Homo sapiens: one gene and its partners. The protein of the gene in region 1 interacts with the protein of each later gene in a biochemical or structural test. Each region holds a gene or a part of one and is shown in the gene's direction. Other genes may lie near its edges. The genes, in order: FZD4, SHANK1, RAPGEF6, NHERF1, MAST2, CARD11 and FRMPD3.

Region 1 (3,500 bases):
CTCTGGCCCAGGCAGGGGAAGGAAGACCAGGCGGTAGGGGACTGGTCTTGCTGTTAGAGTATAGAGGTTTGTAATGCAGTTTTCTTCATAATGTGTCAGTGATTGTGTGACCAAGGCAGCATCTAGCAGAAAGCCAGGCATGGAGTAGGTGATCGATACTTGTCAATGACTAAATAATAACAATAAAAGAGCACTTGGGTGAATCTGGGCACCTGATTTCTGAGTTTTGAGTTCTGGAGCTAGTGTTTTGACAATGCTTTGGGTTTTGACATGCCTTTTCCACAAATCTCTTGCCTTTTCAGGGCAAAGTGTATTTGATCAGAAGTGGCCATTTGGATTAGTAGCCTTAGCAATGCTACAGGGTTATAGGCCTCTCCTTTCACATTCCAGACAATGGAGAGTGTTTATGGTTTCAGGAAAAGAACTTTGTGGCTGAGGGGTCAGTTACCAGTGACCTTCAATCAACTCCATCACTTCTTAAATCGGTATTTGTTAAAAAAATCAGTTATTTTATTTATTGAGTGCCGACTGTAGTAAAGCCCTGAAATAGATAATCTCTGTTCTTCTAACTGATCTAGGATGGGGACGCACCCAGGTCTGCTGAACTTTACTGTTCCTCTGGGAAAGGAGCAGGGACCTCTGGAATTCCCATCTGTTTCACTGTCTCCATTCCATAAATCTCTTCCTGTGTGAGCCACCACACCCAGCCTGGGTCTCTCTACTTTTAACACATCTCTCATCCCTTTCCCAGGATTCCTTCCAAGTCAGTTACAGGTGGTTTTAACAGAAAGCATCAGCTCTGCTTCGTGACAGTCTCTGGAGAAATCCCTTAGGAAGACTATGAGAGTAGGCCACAAGGACATGGGCCCACACATCTGCTTTGGCTTTGCCGGCAATTCAGGGCTTGGGGTATTCCATGTGACTTGTATAGGTATATTTGAGGACAGCATCTTGCTAGAGAAAAGGTGAGGGTTGTTTTTCTTTCTCTGAAACCTACAGTAAATGGGTATGATTGTAGCTTCCTCAGAAATCCCTTGGCCTCCAGAGATTAAACATGGTGCAATGGCACCTCTGTCCAACCTCCTTTCTGGTAGATTCCTTTCTCCTGCTTCATATAGGCCAAACCTCAGGGCAAGGGAACATGGGGGTAGAGTGGTGCTGGCCAGAACCATCTGCTTGAGCTACTTGGTTGATTCATATCCTCTTTCCTTTATGGAGACCCATTTCCTGATCTCTGAGACTGTTGCTGAACTGGCAACTTACTTGGGCCTGAAACTGGAGAAGGGGTGACATTTTTTTAATTTCAGAGATGCTTTCTGATTTTCCTCTCCCAGGTCACTGTCTCACCTGCACTCTCCAAACTCAGGTTCCGGGAAGCTTGTGTGTCTAGATACTGAATTGAGATTCTGTTCAGCACCTTTTAGCTCTATACTCTCTGGCTCCCCTCATCCTCATGGTCACTGAATTAAATGCTTATTGTATTGAGAACCAAGATGGGACCTGAGGACACAAAGATGAGCTCAACAGTCTCAGCCCTAGAGGAATAGACTCAGGGATTTCACCAGGTCGGTGCAGTATTTGATTTCTGGTGAGGTGACCACAGCTGCAGTTAGGGAAGGGAGCCATTGAGCACAGACTTTGGAAGGAACCTTTTTTTTGTTGTTTGTTTGTTTGTTTGTTTGTTTGTTTGTTTGAGACAGGGTCTTGCTCTGTCACCCAGGCTGGGGCGCAATGGCACGATCTTGGCTCACTGCAACCTCTGCCTCCTGGGTTCAAGTGATTCTCCTGCCACAGCCTCCTGAGGAGCTGGGACTACAGGTGCGTGCTACCACGCCCAGCTACTTCTGTATTTTTAGTAGAGACGGGGTTTCACTGTGTTGGCCAGGCTGGTCTCGAACTCCTGACCTCATGATCTGCCCGCCTCAGCCTCCCAAAGTGCTGGGATTACAAGTGTGAGCCACCACACCTGGCCTGGAAGGAACCTCTTAAAATCAGTTTACGTCTTGTATTTTGTTCTGTGATGGAGGACACTGGAGAGAGTTGCTATTCCAGTCAATCATGTCGAGTCACTGGACTCTGAAAATCCTATTGGTTCCTTTATTTTATTTGAGTTTAGAGTTCCCTTCTGGGTTTGTATTATGTCTGGCAAATGACCTGGGTTATCACTTTTCCTCCAGGGTTAGATCATAGATCTTGGAAACTCCTTAGAGAGCATTTTGCTCCTACCAAGGATCAGATACTGGAGCCCCACATAATAGATTTCATTTCACTCTAGCCTACATAGAGCTTTCTGTTGCTGTCTCTTGCCATGCACTTGTGCGGTGATTACACACTTGACAGTACCAGGAGACAAATGACTTACAGATCCCCCGACATGCCTCTTCCCCTTGGCAAGCTCAGTTGCCCTGATAGTAGCATGTTTCTGTTTCTGATGTACCTTTTTTCTCTTCTTCTTTGCATCAGCCAATTCCCAGAATTTCCCCAGGCAATTTGTAGAGGACCTTTTTGGGGTCCTATATGAGCCATGTCCTCAAAGCTTTTAAACCTCCTTGCTCTCCTACAATATTCAGTACATGACCACTGTCATCCTAGAAGGCTTCTGAAAAGAGGGGCAAGAGCCACTCTGCGCCACAAAGGTTGGGTCCATCTTCTCTCCGAGGTTGTGAAAGTTTTCAAATTGTACTAATAGGCTGGGGCCCTGACTTGGCTGTGGGCTTTGGGAGGGGTAAGCTGCTTTCTAGATCTCTCCCAGTGAGGCATGGAGGTGTTTCTGAATTTTGTCTACCTCACAGGGATGTTGTGAGGCTTGAAAAGGTCAAAAAATGATGGCCCCTTGAGCTCTTTGTAAGAAAGGTAGATGAAATATCGGATGTAATCTGAAAAAAAGATAAAATGTGACTTCCCCTGCTCTGTGCAGCAGTCGGGCTGGATGCTCTGTGGCCTTTCTTGGGTCCTCATGCCACCCCACAGCTCCAGGAACCTTGAAGCCAATCTGGGGGACTTTCAGATGTTTGACAAAGAGGTACCAGGCAAACTTCCTGCTACACATGCCCTGAATGAATTGCTAAATTTCAAAGGAAATGGACCCTGCTTTTAAGGATGTACAAAAGTATGTCTGCATCGATGTCTGTACTGTAAATTTCTAATTTATCACTGTACAAAGAAAACCCCTTGCTATTTAATTTTGTATTAAAGGAAAATAAAGTTTTGTTTGTTAGGTTGTGTGTGACTTGGCATATTTCTGAAAGTATATGACAGCCACTAGGAAGCATATACACCCAGCAGTGAGAAATAGAGGATTCAGTTTGTAGGGCAGATTGGGAACTGCTTTCTGAGGGCCTCTTTCTTTTTTGCTGGGGCTCTTTTTCCCCTGTGGGATTTCTCCTGCGTCAGCAAACCCCCACAGTCTAAGGTCAACAGAATTGATTGCTAATATGGTCATCAGTAACACTCAAGTAGGTCACATGATGCTTTGGATATAACTATAGTTCTCAAGTTGT
Region 2 (3,500 bases), on another chromosome or scaffold:
GCTTCAGATACACAGAGGGTTGGGAGCAGGTTTTAAATATCCTTGTCCATCTACAGAGTTCACTTGAATTCTGTTTGAAGGTCTGCTATCCAAATGTGTCTGACCTTCAAATGTGGGTTCAGGGAGTGTATATTTGGGGCAACTTAAATCTATGCTCCCAGGTTGAAAAAAAAAAAAAAAGAAAGAAAAGAAAAAGGAGGCTGGGCACAGTGGCCTGCCTCTGTAGTCCCAGCTACTCAGGAGGCTGAGGTGGGTGGATCACTTGAGCCTGGAAGGTTGAGGCTGCAGTGAGCTGATATGACACCAAGGCACTGCAGCCTGGGGAACAAAGTGAGACCCTGTCTTAAAAAAAAAAAAAAAAAGAGAGAGAGAGAGAGAAAGAAAAGAAAAAGGAAGTGTATATTATTAGAGCAACTTGAATCAATGCTCCTACGCTGTAAAAATAAACAAACAAATGTGGGTTTATTAGGCCTTTAAGAACTGAATGCAATTCCTTGACTATTCTTAAGTATTCTGGTTAGAGAAGAGGATTTTTTTTTTCTTTTCTTTTTTTTTTTTTCCACTGCTTGTAGCAGCAACAGGAAGGATGCTTAATTCAGTCAACAATTGCATTAATTATTGACTCATGACCTATGTGTGCAGAGTGCCCTTCTGGGTGATGGGATCCCCTGCTGGACAGGACAGGCAAAGACTGTGCAACTCCACAGGGCTCATAGTCTAGGGACATAGGAGTGGGGGCGGGGCAGTAAACAAAATAATTGCAACCATCCTACAAAAAAAGCTACCACAATGGGATGGGTGGAGAAGGTCTCTCATGTAACAGGCAAGGTGGGCAGAGTAATGAAAGTGGAGAGGGAGCAGCTGCCCAGGGCAAGAGTGAGCCAGGCAGGGGGAGCAGCCAGTTCAAAGGCCCTGAGGTGGGACAGTGCTGGAGGGGAGGGAACGAAAGGGATGAGGGGAACCTTTTTCTCCCCTTGTTTCTTCTCTCTTTCATCTCCCTCTCTTCATCTCTCTCTCTCTGTGTCCCCTGTCCCTTCCATCTCTCTCCCCTGGATGCTCACCCTCTTTTTGTCTCTCTCTCACTGTCTCCCCATCTTTCACTCTGCTACGACTGGCCATAACCTGAAAGGCAGTATAGAATAGTGGTGAAGAGCTCAGACTTTGGTGCCATATAACCGGGCTCTGCCACTTCCTGTGTGTCCTTAGGCAAGTTATTTAACCTCTCTGTGCTGATAATAATAGTAACCTGCATCAGGGCTGTCGTGGGGATTAAACTGAGATGCAATCATGTAAAGCACTTAGAACAATGCCTGGCACACGTGAGCATCAGTAAGCGGTGACGATTATTATTATTATCACTTAATGTCTCTTTTTCTTTCATCTCTCTTAACTGTCGCCCTCTCCCTGTCCTCTCATCTTTCTCTCCCTTCATTTCTTTCCTCGACGGCCGGCCGTCTTACCCCTTGCTCCCTCCATTTCTTCCCGTCTCTCCTCCGTCTCTCCCCCTACCCTTATGTCTCTCCTCCTCTCTCCCTATATCTTGACCTCTGCCTCTTTCTCACCCCTGCCCTTGCCCCCTAAATCCCTGTCCTCCCCCACTGCCCCCTTGTCACATTCCAGACTCTCCGACGACTCCCAGTCCTCACTCCTCTCCAAGCCTGTCAGCAGCCTGTTTCAGAACTGGCCCAAACCACCTCTGCCGCCACTCCCCACCGGAACAGGGGTCTCCCCTACAGCCGCTGCGGCCCCAGGGGCCACCTCACCCTCAGCCTCCTCCTCCTCCACGTCCACCCGCCACCTCCAGGGCGTGGAGTTCGAGATGCGGCCCCCTCTGCTCCGCCGGGCCCCCAGCCCCTCGCTGCTGCCCGCCTCGGAGCACAAGGTCAGCCCTGCGCCCAGGCCCTCGTCCCTGCCCATCCTGCCTTCCGGACCCCTCTACCCAGGCCTCTTTGACATCCGTGGCTCCCCAACTGGAGGGGCAGGAGGCTCGGCTGACCCCTTCGCCCCAGTCTTTGTGCCGCCACACCCGGGGATATCCGGGGGGCTCGGGGGAGCCTTGTCAGGGGCCTCGCGCTCCCTCTCACCGACCCGCCTGCTCTCGCTGCCCCCGGACAAGCCGTTTGGCGCTAAACCTCTGGGGTTCTGGACCAAGTTCGACGTGGCTGATTGGCTGGAGTGGCTGGGTTTGGCGGAGCACCGAGCCCAGTTCCTGGACCACGAGATCGATGGCTCCCACCTGCCCGCCTTGACCAAGGAGGACTACGTCGATCTAGGTGTGACCAGGGTGGGCCACCGCATGAACATCGACCGGGCTCTCAAATTCTTCCTGGAGAGGTGATGGCTGGCCTGGACGGACCAGCCCCGTCCACAGAACTCTTGAGCCTGCTGGCCTCTTGACCTCTGACCCCTGACTGTCATTCTCTCCCCGGGCCAGGGACTCTGTTCAAACTGCGCCCTGCCCTCATCTCCCAAGGCCAGAGGTCACCAGGTGGCCCAATCCAGGCCGGACATTTGCACCTCACTGAAGGGGGGCAGCTGACACAAGAGTGTGTGTGTGTGTGTGAAGCGGGGAGCGGAGGGGGGATAGGAGAAATTACAGAGGGGAATTGAGAAGGAGGGAAGGGCCTATTCTGGGGGGAGGGGATAGACAGAGCCATAGAGGGTCAGCCCTGAGCCCGATTGGATGGGGACTGTCCCCCAGGCCGCAGGGGAAGGGGGTGCCCTCGGATTCCACCACCTGCCACCCCTCTAACAACCCTTCCCACTCTCTCCAGGCCCCTCAGCTCTCCCCCCTTCCCCTCTCCCCAGCACACACAGCTGCCCCCCTCAGCCTCTTGCACGCTCCGTTGCACGCCTGCTCACCTCTCTCCCCTCCCGTCCCCGGGCTGCAATTTTGCACAAATTTGCCCTCTCGCTGTCTTGCACATTCTGCCTTTGCTTCTGGCTGGCGAGGCCCGCTCAAATACACTCTGCTCTCCTCGCACACGCTGCATTTCCTTTCTCACGCTCCATGCCTCCTTCTCTGCTTCTTGCTGCTTACACACTTTTCCCCTACCAGGGCCCTCCTTTACACACTCCATTTCACATCTCCTCCTCCCCGCTCGCTCTGGACCCTTGTTGCAGACACACTTGGGACACATTTTCCCTCCCCCTCACAGACTCCATGCACATCATTCATTCTCTGGAGTGCCCTGCTCTTTGCTCAGCCCTTGCACACTTGCTATCTTATGCACCCCTCCTGACACACTCTTACCTCCATTTTCTTACGTTGAAGCACTTTCCCTTCTTATTCTTAAAAACCCCAGATTCTTCCACTCCCCAACTCTCCCCTCTCACCATGACACTCCTAGCCCCCCACCCCCCGCCTTCCCTCTTGCCCCTTTTGCACCGTCACTTTTGGTCACGCCTTTTGCACACTTGCCTCCCAGAAACTGTTTCTCTCACACATGCTCATTCTCTTCTTCTTTGCCAGGCTCCCACTCCCTTGCCCCTTTCTGTTT
Region 3 (3,500 bases), on another chromosome or scaffold:
CACAACTACTCTGCTATTACACCAGAATAGCCATAGACAACACATAAACAAATGGCATGACTGTGTCCCAGTAAAACTTTTTTTTTTTTTTAAGGCGGAGTCTCGCTCTGTGAGACAGAGTGTCACTCTTGTTGCCCAGGCTGGAGTGCACTGGCGCGATCTCGGCTCACTGCAAGCTCCGCCTCCTGGGTTCACGCTGTTCTCCTGCCTCAGCCTCCCGAGTAGCTGGGACTACAGGCGCCCACCACCACGCCCGGCTAATTTTTTGTATTTTTAGTAGAGACAGGGTTTCACCATGTTAGCCAGGATGGTCTCGATCTCCTGACCTCGTGATCCGCCCGCCTCGGCCTCCCAAAGTGCTGGGATTACAGGCGTGAGCCACCACGCCCAGCCAAAACTTTATTTACAAAAACGAGCAAAGAGACCACCAGATTTGGCCCTGGGCTGTAGTTTGCTACCCCCTGCACTATACTGTAAATGAGGGGTTTACAAACTTTTTTTTGTGAAGGGCTGGGTAGTAAATATTTTCGCCTCTGCAATCTACATATAGTCTCTGTCACAAATTCTTCTGGTTTGGTTTTGTTTTCTTTTCTTTTTTAACCTTTTAAAAGGTTAAAAAACAGAACTATTCTTTGCTCCAGACCATACAAAAATAGGCTGTTGGCTAAATTTGGCCCATGAGCTTTAGTTTGGGGACCCCTGCTATAAATTATTCATTTCATGGGTAATTGGGGAAGTTGCTGTTTACTTGGCACTGTACTGGGCTAACCTCAGAGGTACGTTGAAAAATAAAACATGATTCTTCAAGTTGGGAACTCTTAATTCTGTATGCATGGACGCAGTAGTCTAATATTGTGATGACCAAAAATGAATATGTATACTTAACCTTATTCATTTCAACTCTCATCTTTACATTTTCATTTAAAATCAGTTCAAGAAAAATACTTGCCAGGCATACCTCTGGTCCATCCCAGCTGCTGGGGAGGCTGAGGCGGGAGGATCACTTGAGCCCAGGAGTTAAAAGCTGCAGTGCATCATGATCGTGCCTGTAAATAACCACTGCACTCTGGTCTGGGCAACAGAGTGACACCCTGTCTCGAAAAAAAAAAAAATATCTAACATTTTAAAATTTAAAAAGAAAAATTCTAAGGAAATTTTGCTAAGCATTAGAGTTTCTTTACTGTGTCTTCTGAGTGTTAACTAAATACTTACAAGGAATATAGTGATGAATGATGATAATATTGTTTTCCTCACGATGTTATTTGGCATGAACACTTGTGGTACGTGCTCTGTAGTTTCTCACAGGCAATAATAACTTGAAACAGAGAGAAGATAGTTTTTCTGGCAAGCCTTCTAATTGTACGTTATCTCCAATTTTAGGTGGACACTCTTGAAGCCATCTCTAATCAAGTGTTTAGCTGTCTCATCGTCTGTGAGCAATGAAGAGATTTCTCAAGAGCATATCATTATAGAAGCAGCTGACAGTGGTCGTGGAAGTTGGACTTCGTGTTCAAGCAGCTCCCATGACAACTTCCAAAGCCTTCCAAACCCAAAAAGCTGGGATTTTTTGAACTCTTACAGACATACCCATTTGGATGACCCCATTGCTGAAGTTGAACCCACTGACTCTGAGCCCTATTCCTGTTCTAAAAGCTGCTCTAGAACTTGTGGGCAGTGTAAAGGAAGCCTAGAGAGAAAGAGTTGGACCTCCTCCAGTTCTCTGTCTGACACGTATGAACCAAACTATGGGACAGTTAAACAGAGAGTATTGGAGAGCACCCCAGCTGAGTCATCTGAAGGCTTGGACCCCAAGGATGCCACTGACCCAGTTTATAAAACTGTCACTTCAAGTACAGAAAAGGGCTTGATTGGTAAGTTGTGTTTTTGTTGTCTGTGGCATTTAGAGATTAAGTAGTCAAAAAATGGCATTGGGATATCTTGGCCCTGGATTTTATCGTCGCAAAAATTCATTCTCTAACAACCTTTCTTTCCTTCACAAACAAACAAGTTATTTCCCAAAAATTCATGGTTTCTCAAAGACTTTGGAGCAGCTATTCAACCCCATTAAAATGAAAAGTCTGATGTGAAGGTATTTAATTAGAGGGACAAGTTTGTTTGTCTTTTGTTTTTAAGTTCTTTTTGGTTTTATTGAGGAATATCATCGCATTAGTGTGCAATAGTAGTAAAGGGATTATTCTCTTTATCACCTCATAAATTGTTTGGACCACAATTGGTATGCATACGTGGTAGAAACATTGAATCTGCTATTGATTTTAGGTCGTAACAGTGAGAGAAAATGCAATCAGGAAGTCCAGAACATTTTTCAGTATACTCTCTTGGTGTACATCATGAGTGTGCCAACTCCTGTTTGTGAATTCCATTCCAAGCTTTCTTAGTAAACTTTTTTTTTTAGTATTTGGCCATCAAATACTTTTTAAAAATTTCTTTCCTAAACTATATAAATACGTGGATATAAAACTGCTTTTCTACTTATATGGAATGACTCTACTTTGAATTAATATCATAATCAACTGTTAAATTTATGCAACAGTCATGGTGTCGCATTTAACTACTAAAAATGTGAAGGTGAAATGTGCTGATTTTATAGTTACTTGTCAAATTGCATTATAGGTTGGGTTTTTAGCTCATTCATTTTTTTCCAACTTTTTTTTTTTTTTTTGAGATGGACTCTTGCTGTATTGCCCAGGCTGGAGTGCAGTGGCATGACCTCGGCTCACTGCAACCTTCGCCTGCCAGGTTCAAGCAATTCTCCTCTCTCAGCCTCCCAAGTAGCTGGGATTACAGGTGCCTGCCACCATGCCCAGCTAATTTTTTTATTTTTAGTAGAGATGGGGCTTCATGTTGGCCAGGCTGGTCTCAAACTTCTCACCTCAGGTGATCCACCCACTTCGGCCTCCAAAGTGCTGGGATTACAGGCGTGAACCACCGCACCTGGCCAGAAGTAAAGTTCTTGAAGGAATTAGTTCCTCCGTACCAGCAAAGTTAAAGTTTATATGCTAGGACTGAGAACTAATCTGCCCAGGAGTGCCAGAAAACATTGGTTCATGTCTCAGAGAGAAGGTGAAACAGCCCTTAAACAGATGGCCCAAATGTCATTTCTATGTAAAGTCTCCCAGTTTACAGAGAATCGGTGTGTAGGGTGAACTTTTAAATGTTTCTGATATCTTTAGGGCTGGTGTGACTTCAGGAGTTGTCATGTACTTCTGTGATATGGGGGCTGAATTGCAGAAGGAAGCTTGTCATCAGTGTCATCTCCTTCAACTCTCTCGTTCTATTTAATGTTTACAGGACTTAATATAGTTGTTTATGTATTTTAAAAAGAGGTTTGTTTATTAAACTTTTAAAAAATGTTTTTGATCTGCCATCATTCAAGTTTATTCATTTTGTCTATTTTTAAGTTGTATTTTGTCATTGTAATAAGTTTGTGGGGTGGTTTCTTTTTTTTTCCATTTCTTTTTCATTAACATTTTCATTGCTTA
Region 4 (3,500 bases), on another chromosome or scaffold:
CCCGGCTGAGGCTTCAGGGCTCCGGGCCCAGGATCGCATTGTGGAGGTGATGCTTCTCGCTCTCTTCCTATCTGACTGCCCCCACCCCCTGCAGATCAGCAGCACCTGGGGCAGCCATCATACCATCATGGGCTTGATTAGCCCACGGGCATAGCCAACCTGGAGCTGCTGGATGGATGGGTGGATGGGAGGGAGGGAGGGAAGGGTGGTGGATGGATAGACGGAAGGACAGATGGACTGACTGATGGACTCTTCTCTTACCTCCACTCCCCTGGACTCCTCCTTGCCAAGCAGATACAGTGGGCAGCCTGTGATTCACCCATCGATCAGGGAGATGTCTGGGGCCATCTCCAGAGCTTCCCTGCTGCCAGGCACACAGAGTGGGGTGGCAGTAACAAAACCCCTCTCCTGAGTTAGGCCTTTATTTATTTAGTTTTTTTTTTTTTAAATGGAGTCTCGCTTTGTTGCCCAGGCTGGGGGAGTGCAGTGGCACAATCCCAGCTCACTGCAACCTCCGCCTCCTGGGTTCAAGCGATTCTCCTGCCTCAGCCTCCTGAGTAGCTGGGATTACAGGTGCCCACCACCACGCCTGGCTAATGTTTGCATTTTTAGTAGAGACAGGATTTCACCATGTTGGCCAGGCTGGTCTCAAACTCCTGACCTCAAGTGATCTGCCCGCCTCGGCCTCCCAAAGTGCTGGGATTCCAGGCGTGAGCCACCTCACCCGGCCCCGAGTTAGGCTTTTAGACTCGTGCATTCAGGGCTCTGGTGCTGTGCTCCTGGGAGAGGAAACGTGAACCAAATGCTCAGGCAGGTCCCAGAATCACAGTCTTAGAACCTTAGAGCTAGAGATCAGCTCTCCCAAGACTTCTCATTTTACACGTGAGAAAACCAAGGCCCAGAGAAGGAAGTCGGACAGCAAGTCCTTACCCAGGCTGGGCCCCACCCCGGCCTCCCAGCTCGCTCCCATCCCATCTCTCCCAGCTGTGTTTGTTTAGTCTCGTCTGGATATTTTCGTTGGCCCTTCCCATGTATCCTGCCTCCCCAGCTGACTGTCAATGGGAGGACCCCCAGCCTAGTTCAGGACTCTGCAGAAATGGCGGGGGTCAGTATCCCCAGGTTGTGAACTGCAAACTGGCTGAGAACCAAGGTGGTCACCCCTGCCCCCAACCCCCCTCCACTTACCTGCCCCAGAACCAAGGCCTGTGTCCGTAACGCCTCCCCGACCCTGCCCTGCAGGTGAACGGGGTCTGCATGGAGGGGAAGCAGCATGGGGACGTGGTGTCCGCCATCAGGGCTGGCGGGGACGAGACCAAGCTGCTGGTGGTGGACAGGGAAACTGACGAGTTCTTCAAGAAATGCAGAGTGATCCCATCTCAGGAGCACCTGAATGGTAAGCCAGGTGGGGCCACTGGCCGTCCTGGGGCTGGAGCCCCCCAAGTCAGGGATGTGAGCCAGGGCTAAGACTGCTGGGTCCCAGGCGAGGGGTGGGCAGCTTCCCGGCATGGGTGCTCCCTCCTCCTCCTTCATGGGAGGCCCAGAGGTGTGGGCTGGGGGAGCGGGGGCCTAGTGTAGGGAGTGGCAGTGGGTTTCTGAGGACGGCTTGTGATGGGGTCAGCTGGCATGAGGTCGGTGAGAGAGATGGACAGATCTTCTTATTCCCGGCCAAAGCTGCAGCCCCAAAGGAGGCCCAAGCCCCCAGTCCTGTCCCCACCAGCAGACTTTCAGGGCAGTGTCAATGTGAGGAAAGGGTTAACTCCGGGGAGGCCTCCAGCCTTTGCTTGGTCAGATCAGAGTCCAGTGACGGGGGCCGGTGCCTCCCCCTCCCTCCTCTCAGGTTGTCTTGGAAACTCAGCCTTGCTGGCTCTAGAGAGTAGTGGGTCCCCCTTCAATCCCTGGGCCCCTGCCCTCCCCATCCCCCACCATCACCCTGCCAAGCCTGGCGCCTCCCCCTGCCCAGGCCCGAGCCAAACAGGGCAGGGCTGCTGCACCGGGGCAGGGAGGGGTTAAGCATGCTCTGCTCCTTGGTCTGGACTTTCTCCCTGGGAAGATGGCTCCCTGGAGCGGGCAGGGGTGCTCACTGGGCCATACTGAGGGTGGAACCTCTTGGGACTTTGCAGTGGGTGGGGCCTCCTGGAGACTCAAGGTTGTATGTGTAAAAGGAGATTCACACAAAGGTCCTGCGACTCCCATCGCCAGCTGCAAGGGCCCACTGGGGAGGCCCTGTCCCCTTCTGGCGCAATCCAAGGCCTGAGGCTCCTAGAAGAGGGGATGGCCCCTGGAAGTCCCTAGCTGGCTCTGGGCATGGGAGGTGGGGTACCGCCTTACCCTTATCTCCCAAGTTCATGGAAACCAGGTAACTCAGATAATCCCCTTCTCCACTGAGGGGGAGACTAAGGCCCAGAGAAGCCCCAGCCTTCCTCCTAGGGATCTGATACGAGGAAGACACAGCTGGAATCTGGATTCCACTCAGCTCCTGGGATACTGTCCCCTGCTTCCCCCACCCCTTCACCCTGCAGGTAATTGGCCCCCTCAGACATTCCTCCCTCTTCTGCCTGTCTCTCGGGCTAGAGGGGCTGCAGCCTCTGGCCAAAGGACCTGAAGAGGGAGAGGCCTGGGGACAGTCCCCTCCCCGCAGTCCCTCCAGGATGGCATCCTCACCCTTTCCATAGGGAGGAATGCCCCCCTCTCCGGCTGCCAGGGTTTCACCCTGACCACTGTGAGCTGATGGGGAGGGGACAGTGAGTGACCCTGTGTCCCAGCAGCCTGTCCTTGCCCGGGGAAGGCTGTGGGTGTCAAAAGGGAGGAGAAGATGAGAGTCAGGTATCTCTGGCTGTGTCCTGGACTGGGGACAGGGAAAAGATAACCAGGAATTTTAAGCTAAGAGTTCAGAAGAAGCCCTACACTGACCAGTCCCTGGAGATGGAACAGCCACCCCTGAAGCCATGTGGGACCCCTACCCTGAGTGAGCCCAGTGAAGGTGACCCCAGACCTGTCTTCTCTCCCTCTGACCCCTCCAGGTTTCCCACTGGCTGGGGGAGGGGATACCCAGGACACACCCCTTGAGCCTTCTCGTCCCCCCTCATTTCCTGATTGGCAAATAGGAGTTGGGATTATTTTCTCTTTTTTTCTTTTTCTTTTTCTTTTTTTTGAGATGGAGTCCTGCTCTGTCACCCAGGCTGGAGTGCAGTGGTGCGATCTCGGCTCACAGCAACATCTGCCCCTAGATTCAAGTGATTCTTCTGCCTCAGTCTCCTGAGTAGCCGGGACTACAGCCATGCGCCACCACGCCCAGCAAATTTTTATATTTTTAGTAGAGATGGGGTTTCACTATGTTGGCCAGGATGGTCTCGATCTCTTGACCTTGTGATCCGCCCACCTCGGCCTCCCAAAGTACTGCGATTACAAGTGTGAGCCACCGCGCCTGGCCTTTTTTTTTTTTTTTCCGGACACAGTCTCTGTCACCCAGGCTAGAGTGCAATGGCACAATCTTGGCTCAC
Region 5 (3,500 bases), on another chromosome or scaffold:
GTTGGGTAGGCCTGGAGCTCAAAAAGGAAGTCAGAGCCAGAGGTACTATTTGGGGAATCATTAGAATAAAAGGGTGGCAGGGTAAAGCCTTCAGCACAAAATGAGTGGCTCAGGCAGAGTATATAAAGGGATCTTAGTTCTAGTTTCTCCCAACTAACCCTCCTCCCAAGACCAGCCATGGACATGGAACAAAATTATGTGTGCCCCCTGCCCCTCTCCCTGAAACAGGAGTATTATGGGCCACTCAGATTGGGAGAGGGGACTAGGAATGGCTCCAGCAGCTGCCTTAGGATGAGGCTGATCTCAGCTCTGTAGAAGAAACTCTGTTCCTCAACTGAATGACTCCTGCCCCCAACATAGAATACAGTTAGGGCAATAAGCAGAAATGGAGTTGTGGGAATGGGCAAAAGGCAGGTTCGTTGCTTGTGCAGAATGCAGCACTCACACAGCCAGAGCGATTTACGTGTCCACACCTGCCTGTCCCCCCAGCTGAAGCTACCCAGCTTGTGTCTCACAGTACCCCCATGGAAGCCTGAGTGGGGAAACTGGGCATATACTAAAATCAGTACTCTCAGAAAACCAGGAATAACTTCTTAATTTTATTTCTTCGTTCTTCCAGCCTCCTAATTACATCCATGGGGCACATCAAGCTCACGGACTTTGGACTGTCCAAAATTGGCCTCATGAGTCTGACAACGAACTTGTATGAGGGTCATATTGAAAAGGATGCCCGGGAATTCCTGGACAAGCAGGTAAGGAAGGGTAGTTGATACACTGGGGGTTAAATTCTAGGCCCTTGTCCTGGCGCAGTGTCTTACGCCCGTAATCCCAACCCTTTGGGAGGCTGAGGCAGGAGGATCGCTTGAGGCCAGCCTGGGCAACATAGTGAGACCCCATCTCTACATTTGTGTACACATACATAGATTCCAGGCCCTAGAATAAGGCCTTGGGGCCATATGCCTACCTTGTAGCTAGATGTTAAGATTGGGAACCCCTATCTTTTCTACCTTTGGGTTCCAGAGAGGCACTGAGATAGGTAGCACATTTGGAAAACAGGATGAGCCTTGAGAATCATATGGATATAAAATCCAAAGTCATCTTCCTCCTCAGGGTTTGGGGAAAATAGGTCATATAACTGTTAGCACAGAGTTTCATATGAGATCAGTCCTGAATCTCCCAGCCTGAATCAAGGGCAAGGCTCTCCTGGAGCCTGAGGTTCTTGGAACACAGCTCTGAATTTCCATTGGGCTGTGGCCCAGTGTCCTGAGAGGCAGCCTCTGGATGTTCCCTGGTTTGACATTTCAGGTTGTGACTGTTCACCGGTCCCTGTAGTTGTTACATGACTGATAGGGTCTGTTTTGTTAGAGGCTGGAGTGCAGAGGCCCATTGTGGGATCACATGCCAGAGGTGGGTGTTGAGGGCTTAAGGGATGGTAGTTCCGGGCTAGAATGAGACATTTTTGTTAATTAGGAAATACCTACTGACAGTTCCGACTCTTGTTCCCTGGGGCTTCTGTTGATCTTGTTCATTAACTAAGGTGGGCTGAGTCTTCATTCAGAGATTCTTCTGCTCGAGATGGGAGCATCCCCCATCTCCGGCTGTCATGCCAGTCAGCAGCCTCAGGAGGCTGAGCCAGCCTGGCTTTTCTGTGCCCAGGTATGCGGGACCCCAGAATACATTGCGCCTGAGGTGATCCTGCGCCAGGGCTATGGGAAGCCAGTGGACTGGTGGGCCATGGGCATTATCCTGTATGAGTTCCTGGTGGGCTGCGTCCCTTTTTTTGGAGATACTCCGGAGGAGCTCTTTGGGCAGGTGATCAGTGGTAGGTACTATGCCCCTGGCCCAGTGGGGAAACAGAGTCTGAATCCACAAATATGATGTATGCAGGCAGCTCGTGAGGCCTGTGAGCTCTTGTTCTGAACTCATCATGTGTGTTTGTGATGTCTGCTGCTTTGGGGATGGGTGTCTCTGTGTTTCTGCATGTACATACATGTGCACACTGTGTCCCTTGGGGCTTCACATGTCTCTCATAGACACCTGGTCTCTCATATACACCTGGGTGTTCCTGTCTGTGTATGTGCACATCCCATAAGTGTGAGGGGTACGTCTGTGTATGTTTTGTGGAGTATAAAAGCAGGGTGAGCTAGAGCTTTGCAGTGCCTGCTGTGGATCAAAGATCAAGCTATGGTCTAGGAACCTATAGAATTTAAGGACTGGGGTCCCAGGCAAGGCTTTCAGGGGCTCCAGGCTGGGTCCTTTTTGCCTCCTTTCCTTTCACTGTTCTGGGACCCTCTTCTGCATCTCTCCACTCTACCCACAATTTCTCCTTTCCCTCTCACCCCTGATGACTTCAGATGAGATTGTGTGGCCTGAGGGTGATGAGGCACTGCCCCCAGACGCCCAGGACCTCACCTCCAAACTGCTCCACCAGAACCCTCTGGAGAGACTTGGCACAGGTAGGGCAGGCCCTGCTAACTTTTCTCACTACTTGGAAAAGGGGTAAGGGAGGCTGAGTCATGTACCCTGGAGGTTCAGGCTTCGGTTACGGGCAGCCCCTCTGGATCCTGAAACTCTGCCCTGCTCTGTAGGCAGAAAAGGGAAGATGCTTGAGCTGATCCCCTAGGTATAGCTTCTGAAGGTCTGGCTTCTTGCTAGATTTGCTGACCTAGACTCCATGCTGCTCATCCTACCCCCTTGCCCATGTCCTCCCTGTCCACAGGCAGTGCCTATGAGGTGAAGCAGCACCCATTCTTTACTGGTCTGGACTGGACAGGACTTCTCCGCCAGAAGGCTGAATTTATTCCTCAGTTGGAGTCAGAGGATGATACTAGCTATTTTGACAGTAAGGCCACCGATGGGTGGGGTGGAGGATGGGTCCTACCTGTTTGCCTAGAAACACCTGTGCACACTGAAATTGCATTGGGAGCAACTTCTCAGGGCTCTGCTGAAATCTAATGGGGTCACAAGGAGGCCACCAGCAGGGCTCTGAAGGAAAGTGTCCTTTATGTCTGGCCCAGCCCGCTCAGAGCGATACCACCACATGGACTCGGAGGATGAGGAAGAAGTGAGTGAGGATGGCTGCCTTGAGATCCGCCAGTTCTCTTCCTGCTCTCCAAGGTTCAACAAGGTGTGACTGAGGAGGCCCAGAATGGGCAGAACAGGCTGGAGGATCAGAAGAAGAGGGCCTGTCAAAGGGCACACCTGGGGCAGGCTCAGGGAGTTGGGGTTGGGGCCACCTCTAGAAAAAGAGGAGCTAAGGGTTGGGGCTACATATAGCTATATATAGGTGCTTCTAGAACCACTGCTGTCCCTGACATGAGATGCCAGGTCAGATCAGTGGAATAACTCCTTCCCCAAATATTCAGCAGGGGTGTGTGAAGGAGGGATGGAACCGACTGGTTCAAATTCCTAGGTTTCCGATGCCAAGGATGCTTTATGCCACTTGGGAGGTACGGCTGCCAGAGCCCATCCCCAGCGCATCCCCTGTGCCCACAGGTGTA
Region 6 (3,500 bases), on another chromosome or scaffold:
AAGGAGCCAACCATGCAAGTCTCAGGGGAAAGCACTCGCAAAGCCCATAAGTAGGGGGCATTTTGTTTTTGTTTTTGTTTTTGTTTTTGAAGAAACAGCAGGAAGGCTGAGCTTGATGGCCCACACCTGTAATCCCAGCATTTGGGGAGGCCAAGGCGGGAGGATTGCTTCAGTCCAGGAGTTTGAGACCAGCATGGGCAACATGGCAAAACCCCATCTCTACAAAAATAAGCCAGGCATGGTGGTATGCACCTGTAGTCCCAGCTACTAGGGGTGATAAGGCAGGACGATTACCTGAGCCTGGGAGGTCGAGGCTGCAGTGAGCCATGCCTGTCAAAAGAAAGAACTAGAAGGAAGGAAGGAAGGAAGGAAGGGAGAGAGAGAGAAAGAGAAAGAAAAAGGAAGGAAAAAGACAGGAAGGGAGGGAGGGAAGGAAGGAAGGAAGAAAGGAAGGGAGGAAGGAAGGAAAGGGAGGAAGGGAGGGAGGAAGGAAGGAAGAGGGAGGGAGTAAGGAAGGGGAGGGAGGGAGGAAGGAAGGAAGAGGGAGGAAGGAAGAGGGAGGGAGGGAGGGAGGAAGAGGGAGGGAGGAAGGAAGGAAGGAAGAGAAACAAATGAAAGAGAAAAGAAATGGCAGGAGAGTCAGTGGGGCCAGAGCCAAATAAACAAATGGTGCAGAAGGGAGTGGAAGGGATGGCGGGGTCCAGATCATGGGGGCATGGTAAGAACTTTGGGATTTATTCTAGTTGTGATGAGAACCCTCTGAAGGATTGAGAGCTGAAGAGTGACAATTGATTTATGTCTGAGAAGGATCACTCTGGCTGCTGGATGGAAAATAGACTCACAGAATATTTATTAAGCACCTGCCACGTGTGAGGCACTGTGCTAAGCACTGTGGGAGACATGGGGATAAATAACGTGAGCTGTGCTCAGGTCACTTACAATTTAGTGAAGCAGACAGATCCGTAAACAATCCACCGGGAATTCAGGTGAATTGAGTCAGTGGCATAGCAGGCAATAGTGTTTTGGTTAGAAGCATGAGCTTTGTAAGTCCTGTAGCTTTGAGTTCAAATTCTGGCTTTATGCTTTACGACTTACTTAGCTATTGGCCTCAGTTTCCTCATTTGCAGATGTCAATAATGAAAGTAATACGTGTGCCCTAGGATTGCTGGGATACTGAACCGTAGGTCTTTGGCGGAGCGGCTGACCCTGTAAGCACCCCACAATGCTAGCGCCCCATGCCTGCTCGTGTGGGACCCGGGACTTACCACAGGACACTTGGGTTAAGCTTTGAAGATGCTGAGGAGCTTTTTTTTTTTTTTTTTTTTTTTGCATGAGCAGGAGAGATTTCTATGCTGTTTTTACCTAGGATTTGGGGAAGTTACCCTGTGGCAGAGACTTACAAGTTTCTCTCCCGGAACTTCCTCCTGTGTTATGTTTCCCTGGAGATACATTAATAGTGAGAAAGTGTAAGTAGAATTTGGAAGAACATCTGGCCAGCAGAGTCCCTGGCTGGTTTTCTTGGCCTCGGGCTGCTTCCTGCACGCCCCTTTCTTCATCGTCTCAGGTTAATCACTGGGGTGCAGGAGCTGGTCTTTTCTTGCTAAAGCCACTGCTCTCTACCTGCCAGATTCCTTGAGATGATTCTCCTTCCAAGACTAGATTTGAAAAATGACACTCTCCCCTTTGGTGCCTCCTTTCTTTATAGCCCTCGAATGCAACCTTCTTGTTTGGGATACTTTAGCAAAGCCGATGTGTTTGGGGAGGAACACAGGTTAGTCTCACAGGTTGAAGAAGTCTTCTGCTGGTCCCAGTTCCTGACACTAAACTCTTGAGTGTGAAAATCAGCACATCTCCACTTGTCTCATTTCCAGATGCAATAGCTGCCTCCTCCAGGAAGCTACTCTTTCTGCCACTAAGTCTAGGGAGGTTCTTTAGGGTGGAGATCCTGTGAAATTACAATTCAGTGAATTTCAGGCTGTCTTCTTCTCCTTCTCCTTTTCCTTCTCCTTCTCCTCCTCCTCCTCTTCCTCTCCTCCTCCTCCTTCTTCTCCTCCTTCTTCCTATTATTCTTCTTTCTTCTCCTCCTCCTCTTCCTTCTTCTTCTTTCTTCTTCTCCTTCTCCTTCTTCCCCTTTCTCTTCCTCTTCCTCTCCTCCTTCCTCCTCCTCCTCTCCTCCTCCTCTTCCTTCTTCTCCCCCTCCTCTTCTTCCTCTTTTTCCTCTTCTTCCTCCTCCTCTCCTTCTCCTTCTCATTCCTCCTCTTCCTCTTCTTCTTTCTCTTCCTCTTCTTCTCTTTTCTCTTCTTCCCCTTCCTCTTCTTCTTCCTCTACTTTTCTTCTTCTCCTCCTTCTCCTGTTTTTTCTTCTTTTTCCTCTTCCTCCTCCTCTTCCTCTTCCTTTTTAGCAACAGTGCTATTTATCCAAATAAAATCTTGTGTGAAACCCAGAAGAACAAACCACACAAGCAGAGCTGTTCTGGGATGTGAAGTCAGTGTGGATGCCCAGAACCCCAACTTGTCAACCATCTCCTCCTTCCCCCTGGGTAACCCCTGGATTCCTCAGGGGAATCCTTGAGTTCCGAGGATCAGAATTTGAAACCCATCAGAGAAGGGCGTTGAAGTGGGAAACACCAACTTGGATCTCTTTTATCCCAAAATCCATAACCTGTCCCACCTGACAAAGGTTGAGGGAATTTTCTCTGAGGCCTGTAGCCCCTTTGGAGCTATTCTAAATAGACTAATCAGGAACTCTCCATCAACAGGGTGATGACAGTTTGTTTTACTGGAGAAGGTTTCTTGGAGCCCTTCTCTGCCCGTGGAAGAAGGAGAGAGGGGCATAACTCAGGTTATGCTGCCAGCCCAGTGGGATCGGGGGAAGCGTTGCCTTTTCTGAGTGTTTCTTGCCACCTGCCTTCTCCCCTGGGCACCCTTGGGGTATTTCAGATCGATCAGCTAAAGCACCGGTTGAATAAGATGGAGGAGGAATGTAAGCTGGAGAGAAATCAGTCTCTAAAACTGAAGAATGACATTGAAAATCGGCCCAAGAAGGAGCAGGTTCTGGAACTGGAGCGGGAGAATGAAATGCTGAAGACCAAAAACCAGGAGCTGCAGTCCATCATCCAGGTGAGGGCCTGGGGGCGGGGCCAGCGCGGGCAGTGGGAGGGTGAGGGCTTGGGGTTGGGGGAAACGATGAACCTGCCAGGGTGTGAGTCCCCAAGCCTCACCCATGCTGACTGCAGGATCACAGGCATGCGTGCCATCCTTGGGCACCTTTGTCTCCTCCTCTGTAAAGCGGTGACCCCCACCACCCATTTGTCAGAGATAGGATATCATACTTGGGAAAACATGTGCTTATTTGAAGCACTCCAGGAAAATCACCAACCACGTGGAAATCAATGCCCTGGGCACTGTGGGAAGAGACAAGGACATCTAGGAAACCTACGTGCCCTTAAAGATTCCAAGAAACTCAACTGTAAGCTCCGTGCCTCTTGTTCCAACCTCAAA
Region 7 (3,500 bases), on another chromosome or scaffold:
CAACAGAGCCTCTACCCCACTGGAGGAGAGGTCTGGGGACTCCTATGAGGCTGCGAGCTGCATTTGGAATGAGTCAGGGGACCCCTCCCTCTTGTAAGTGGTGCAGTCCGAGGGTCTTGAGAAGTGAGCTGTGTGGCCCAGTTGGGGGATTTTGTGACCAACGACATCCTCTAGGAGCAGTAGTAGATTGAAAAAGTGCAACAAGAAAGCCCTGGGATTGCTGATGATAGCAGCAAGCTGGGAAAGGCTTGCTGGAGATGGGGGTGGGGGTGGGTAACAGAGGAGTCTCGGGTGGGATGAGTAGAGGAGAGGAATTGCCCCACCGCAGTAATCCTTACTTCAGCCCTTGGAGGGAGCATGGGTGGATGCAGGACAACGGAAGCACTCTGTACCCACCCTCCCCCACTACGCATAAATGATTGGACTCCGTGGCTAATGCCTGATAAGGCACTTGGAGGGGCAGCACCAATGCAACAGAGGAAAGATCCCTGTTTTTGTGGCACCTCCAGGCTAACTGAATGAAGCCATAAGACACACATACATACACATACACACAAATACACACACACATATCACACACAAGACACACACCCCTCAGACACACCCTCAAACCCCAACACATACCTGGGGCAAATTGTGGAAAGAGAGGCTCATGCAGACAAGCTTGGTTTTGGGGGGTTCTTGCCTTCACATATAGGCCCTAGCAATCATTGCTAGGGGGACTAGAATTGATACCTATTGATACTAGATGAAGACCCTTAGCTTTGACAGGCCCCCTGGGAGGAAGCACACTCAAGTCAGCTTCTGTTTGTGGGGCAGCCTTAAGGCCATTAGCATTCCCAGCAGAAAATTCTGTTCTGGCTCTTCTCTCAAGGACTTCTATTTTCCTTTTTACCATAAGTTCAGAAACAAAAACATTCTCTTGCATTATCGGCAGCCAAAATGAAGGACTCTCAAAATGGGGTGGACCTTATTGTCTGCTGAGAAATCCTGGGGCTAGGGGCAAAGGGGTAGGGTAGGGAGCAAATCCAGAGAAACATGCCATTTTCCCTCCTTTCCTCCCCTCAGCTGAGCTGCCAAAGGCAAGGACAGTGATCTTGGGGTTCTGTATTATTTCCCACCCATGACAGGCAGAGCACCCTTTTCTGAGACCTGAGGCACCATCCTTAAAACAGAACATTAACAGCCTGTGGCACACTAGTGCCCAATCCCTGGTAGTCAGAAAATGAGCCTGGAAATGGGAATATGTGTATAACGTGGGGCGGGGAAAGGAGAGAGAGGGAAAGAGGTGCTACTTGTGTATCTGTAGGAGCAGGTGTGTCTATTTCTGTGTGTTTGTGTTAAGGAACATGAGAATGAGCAGGTGTGTGCACTCTTGCAGCTTTCTCAGCATGCATGCCGTAGCCAGTGTTTTTGCTCTGTGCCTCAAATTCACTTTGCCATTAGCCACACTACTAGCCACCCGCAGCTTTTGAAAGAACTCTCTGCTAGGTTCTAATATCTGGGTCTCCTTCCAGCCAAGTGACCCCTCCTTTTTTCTCTTTTATTGCTAGTTCTTCTTACTACCCCTCAAATCTGGGTGTTCTCCAGCTCCTCCTGCTTTCCACTTTCTTTATTGACAAGGACACACAGGCATGCATGGCTTCCCTTCTCACCTCTTTACCAACCATTCCCATTTCTCTAGCCCAAACTTAACCCCACTCCTGAGGTTCAGTCCTATATTTCCAACTGCTTGCTAAACATTTCCTCTTGGATAGCTTGCTCTCAGACTCAGTATTCACAAACTCATCTCATTATTTCTCAGAGATGACTCACTCTTCTCACCTTTCTTTTACCATAAGGCTTCTTGTCTCCCAGTCTAGAAACCTCAAAGCCATCTCTGACTCATCCCCTATGCCCCAGTCCACCCTGACTCCTGCCACCACCTCACAGCCACACTGCACTAGTCTCTTTCCTTTCCAGTCCATAATACACACAACTGCTAGATTAATGTTGTGGAATATCCTTTATTCATAATGCTTCTGATCATCATCCTTGGAGGGTGATACCTGATTGCCTGTGGGATAAATTTCAGCCTCCTTAGCCTGGCATTCAAAGTTCTCCTTGTGTGGACCTAACCCTGTATATTCTTCCAACCCTATTTCTCATGCTTGGTCCACATCATTGATTCTCAAATTTTAATGTGTCTTAAAATTGCTTGAGGGAACTTGTTATAATGCAGATTCCTGAGTCCTACCTCCTGAGCTTCTGATTCAGTAGGTCTGGAAGCTGGAGTCCAGGAATATGCATTTTAACAAGCTCCCCAAGTGATTTTGATACACTTGATCTACTTGTGAAACAAAGCCCTACATGGACCCTTCTACTCCAGCCAAGTTTCTTACCCCAGGATCTCCTAAACGTACCTTGTACATTTTTTTTGCCTCTATGTTTTTGTTCATTCCATTTCACTCACCAGGAATGCCCTTTCCTTTCTGCCTATGCTTCTCTCCTATTCCATATCACTATACCTATCCTTCAGCTCTACATTCAAATTCACCTCCTCTGTGAAATCTTCTCTGATCATTTTAGACTAAAGTGATCTCTCTCTCCTCTCAACTCCTCCGTCTCTAAAATACATTTGGGGCTGGGTGTGGTGGCTCAGGCCTGTAATCCTAACACTTTGGGAGGCTGAGGTGGGAGGACAGCTTGAGCCCAGGAGTTTGAAACCAGCCCTTGCAACATAGCGAGACCCTATTTCTACAAAAAACTAAAACATTAGCTGGGTATGGTGGTGCATACCTGTTATCTCAGCTACTCGGGACTACAGAGAGGCTGAGGCGGGAGGATGGCTTGAACACGGGAGGTCGAGACTGCAGTGAGCTGTGGTCGCACCAGTGCACTCCAGCCTGGGTGACAGAGTGAGACCCTGTCTCTAAATAAATAAATAAATAAAAATACATTTGGCAAGTACATCTTTTTTTTTAATTTTTTTAAATCCCCATAGCATATGTGCCTAATACACAGTAGGTACTCAATAGGCATATGTTGAATTGGACCAAATACTTGTTGATTCATATTAGACAGGGATTCTATCGCATCTCCCCCTGCACATTAGTTCATAAAACATTTATTGAGCACCAATTATGTACAAGGCACTGTGCTAGTTGCTGTGGATAATACAAAAGATGAAGGAGGCTTCCTGTCCTTCTCCTTCTCAGTCATCTTTGAATTTACAGTGCCTAGTGCATAGAAGAGATACTTAATAAATATTTGTTGACTACTCAAATGAATGACTTCATGAATAAGTGAAGGGATGAAGTTCAGACTGGAAAAAACTTGAGCAAGTACGTAGGGTGGCTGTGTCATAGAGAAATAGGGCAGGAATGGAAGATAAGGCTAGGAAGATAGAGTGGGTATAGTGGATGACTATTATTATTATTATTATTATTTTTAGAGACAGGGTCTCACTCCGTTGCCCAGATGAGTACAGTGGCATGATCATGGCTCACTGTAGCCTCAAA

The links.
Region 2: the proteins of FZD4 (region 1) and SHANK1 interact in a test that uses a peptide from one of them, tested with the Homo sapiens proteins (one large-scale study listed by IntAct).
Region 3: the proteins of FZD4 (region 1) and RAPGEF6 interact in a test that uses a peptide from one of them, tested with the Homo sapiens proteins (one large-scale study listed by IntAct).
Region 4: the proteins of FZD4 (region 1) and NHERF1 interact in far-western blotting, tested with the Homo sapiens proteins (one study listed by IntAct).
Region 5: the proteins of FZD4 (region 1) and MAST2 interact in a test that uses a peptide from one of them, tested with the Homo sapiens proteins (one large-scale study listed by IntAct).
Region 6: the proteins of FZD4 (region 1) and CARD11 interact in a test that uses a peptide from one of them, tested with the Homo sapiens proteins (one large-scale study listed by IntAct).
Region 7: the proteins of FZD4 (region 1) and FRMPD3 interact in a test that uses a peptide from one of them, tested with the Homo sapiens proteins (one large-scale study listed by IntAct).

Annotation. Positions count from the first base shown.
Region 1 is NC_000011.10:86,945,396-86,948,895, reverse strand, and holds the end of FZD4 (frizzled-4 precursor), read left to right. Parts: 3' UTR 1-3,217; downstream 3,218-3,500. UniProt on the Homo sapiens protein: Receptor for Wnt proteins.
Region 2 is NC_000019.10:50,660,803-50,664,302, reverse strand, and holds part of SHANK1 (SH3 and multiple ankyrin repeat domains protein 1), read left to right. Parts: intron 1-1,620; coding exon 1,621-2,338; 3' UTR 2,339-3,500. UniProt on the Homo sapiens protein: Seems to be an adapter protein in the postsynaptic density (PSD) of excitatory synapses that interconnects receptors of the postsynaptic membrane including NMDA-type and metabotropic glutamate receptors via complexes with GKAP/PSD-95 and Homer, respectively, and the actin-based cytoskeleton.
Region 3 is NC_000005.10:131,429,230-131,432,729, reverse strand, and holds part of RAPGEF6 (rap guanine nucleotide exchange factor 6), read left to right. Parts: intron 1-1,380; coding exon 1,381-1,871; intron 1,872-3,500. UniProt on the Homo sapiens protein: Guanine nucleotide exchange factor (GEF) for Rap1A, Rap2A and M-Ras GTPases. Does not interact with cAMP.
Region 4 is NC_000017.11:74,762,128-74,765,627, forward strand, and holds part of NHERF1 (Na(+)/H(+) exchange regulatory cofactor NHE-RF1), read left to right. Parts: coding exon 1-46; intron 47-1,239; coding exon 1,240-1,393; intron 1,394-3,500. UniProt on the Homo sapiens protein: Scaffold protein that connects plasma membrane proteins with members of the ezrin/moesin/radixin family and thereby helps to link them to the actin cytoskeleton and to regulate their surface expression. Necessary for recycling of internalized ADRB2.
Region 5 is NC_000001.11:46,027,112-46,030,611, forward strand, and holds part of MAST2 (microtubule-associated serine/threonine-protein kinase 2), read left to right. Parts: intron 1-619; coding exon 620-752; intron 753-1,656; coding exon 1,657-1,822; intron 1,823-2,354; coding exon 2,355-2,456; intron 2,457-2,719; coding exon 2,720-2,842; intron 2,843-3,017; coding exon 3,018-3,127; intron 3,128-3,495; coding exon 3,496-3,500. UniProt on the Homo sapiens protein: Appears to link the dystrophin/utrophin network with microtubule filaments via the syntrophins. Phosphorylation of DMD or UTRN may modulate their affinities for associated proteins. Functions in a multi-protein complex in spermatid maturation.
Region 6 is NC_000007.14:2,939,368-2,942,867, reverse strand, and holds part of CARD11 (caspase recruitment domain-containing protein 11), read left to right. Parts: intron 1-2,939; coding exon 2,940-3,119; intron 3,120-3,500. UniProt on the Homo sapiens protein: Adapter protein that plays a key role in adaptive immune response by transducing the activation of NF-kappa-B downstream of T-cell receptor (TCR) and B-cell receptor (BCR) engagement.
Region 7 is NC_000023.11:107,452,652-107,456,151, forward strand, and holds part of FRMPD3 (FERM and PDZ domain-containing protein 3), read left to right. Parts: intron 1-3,500.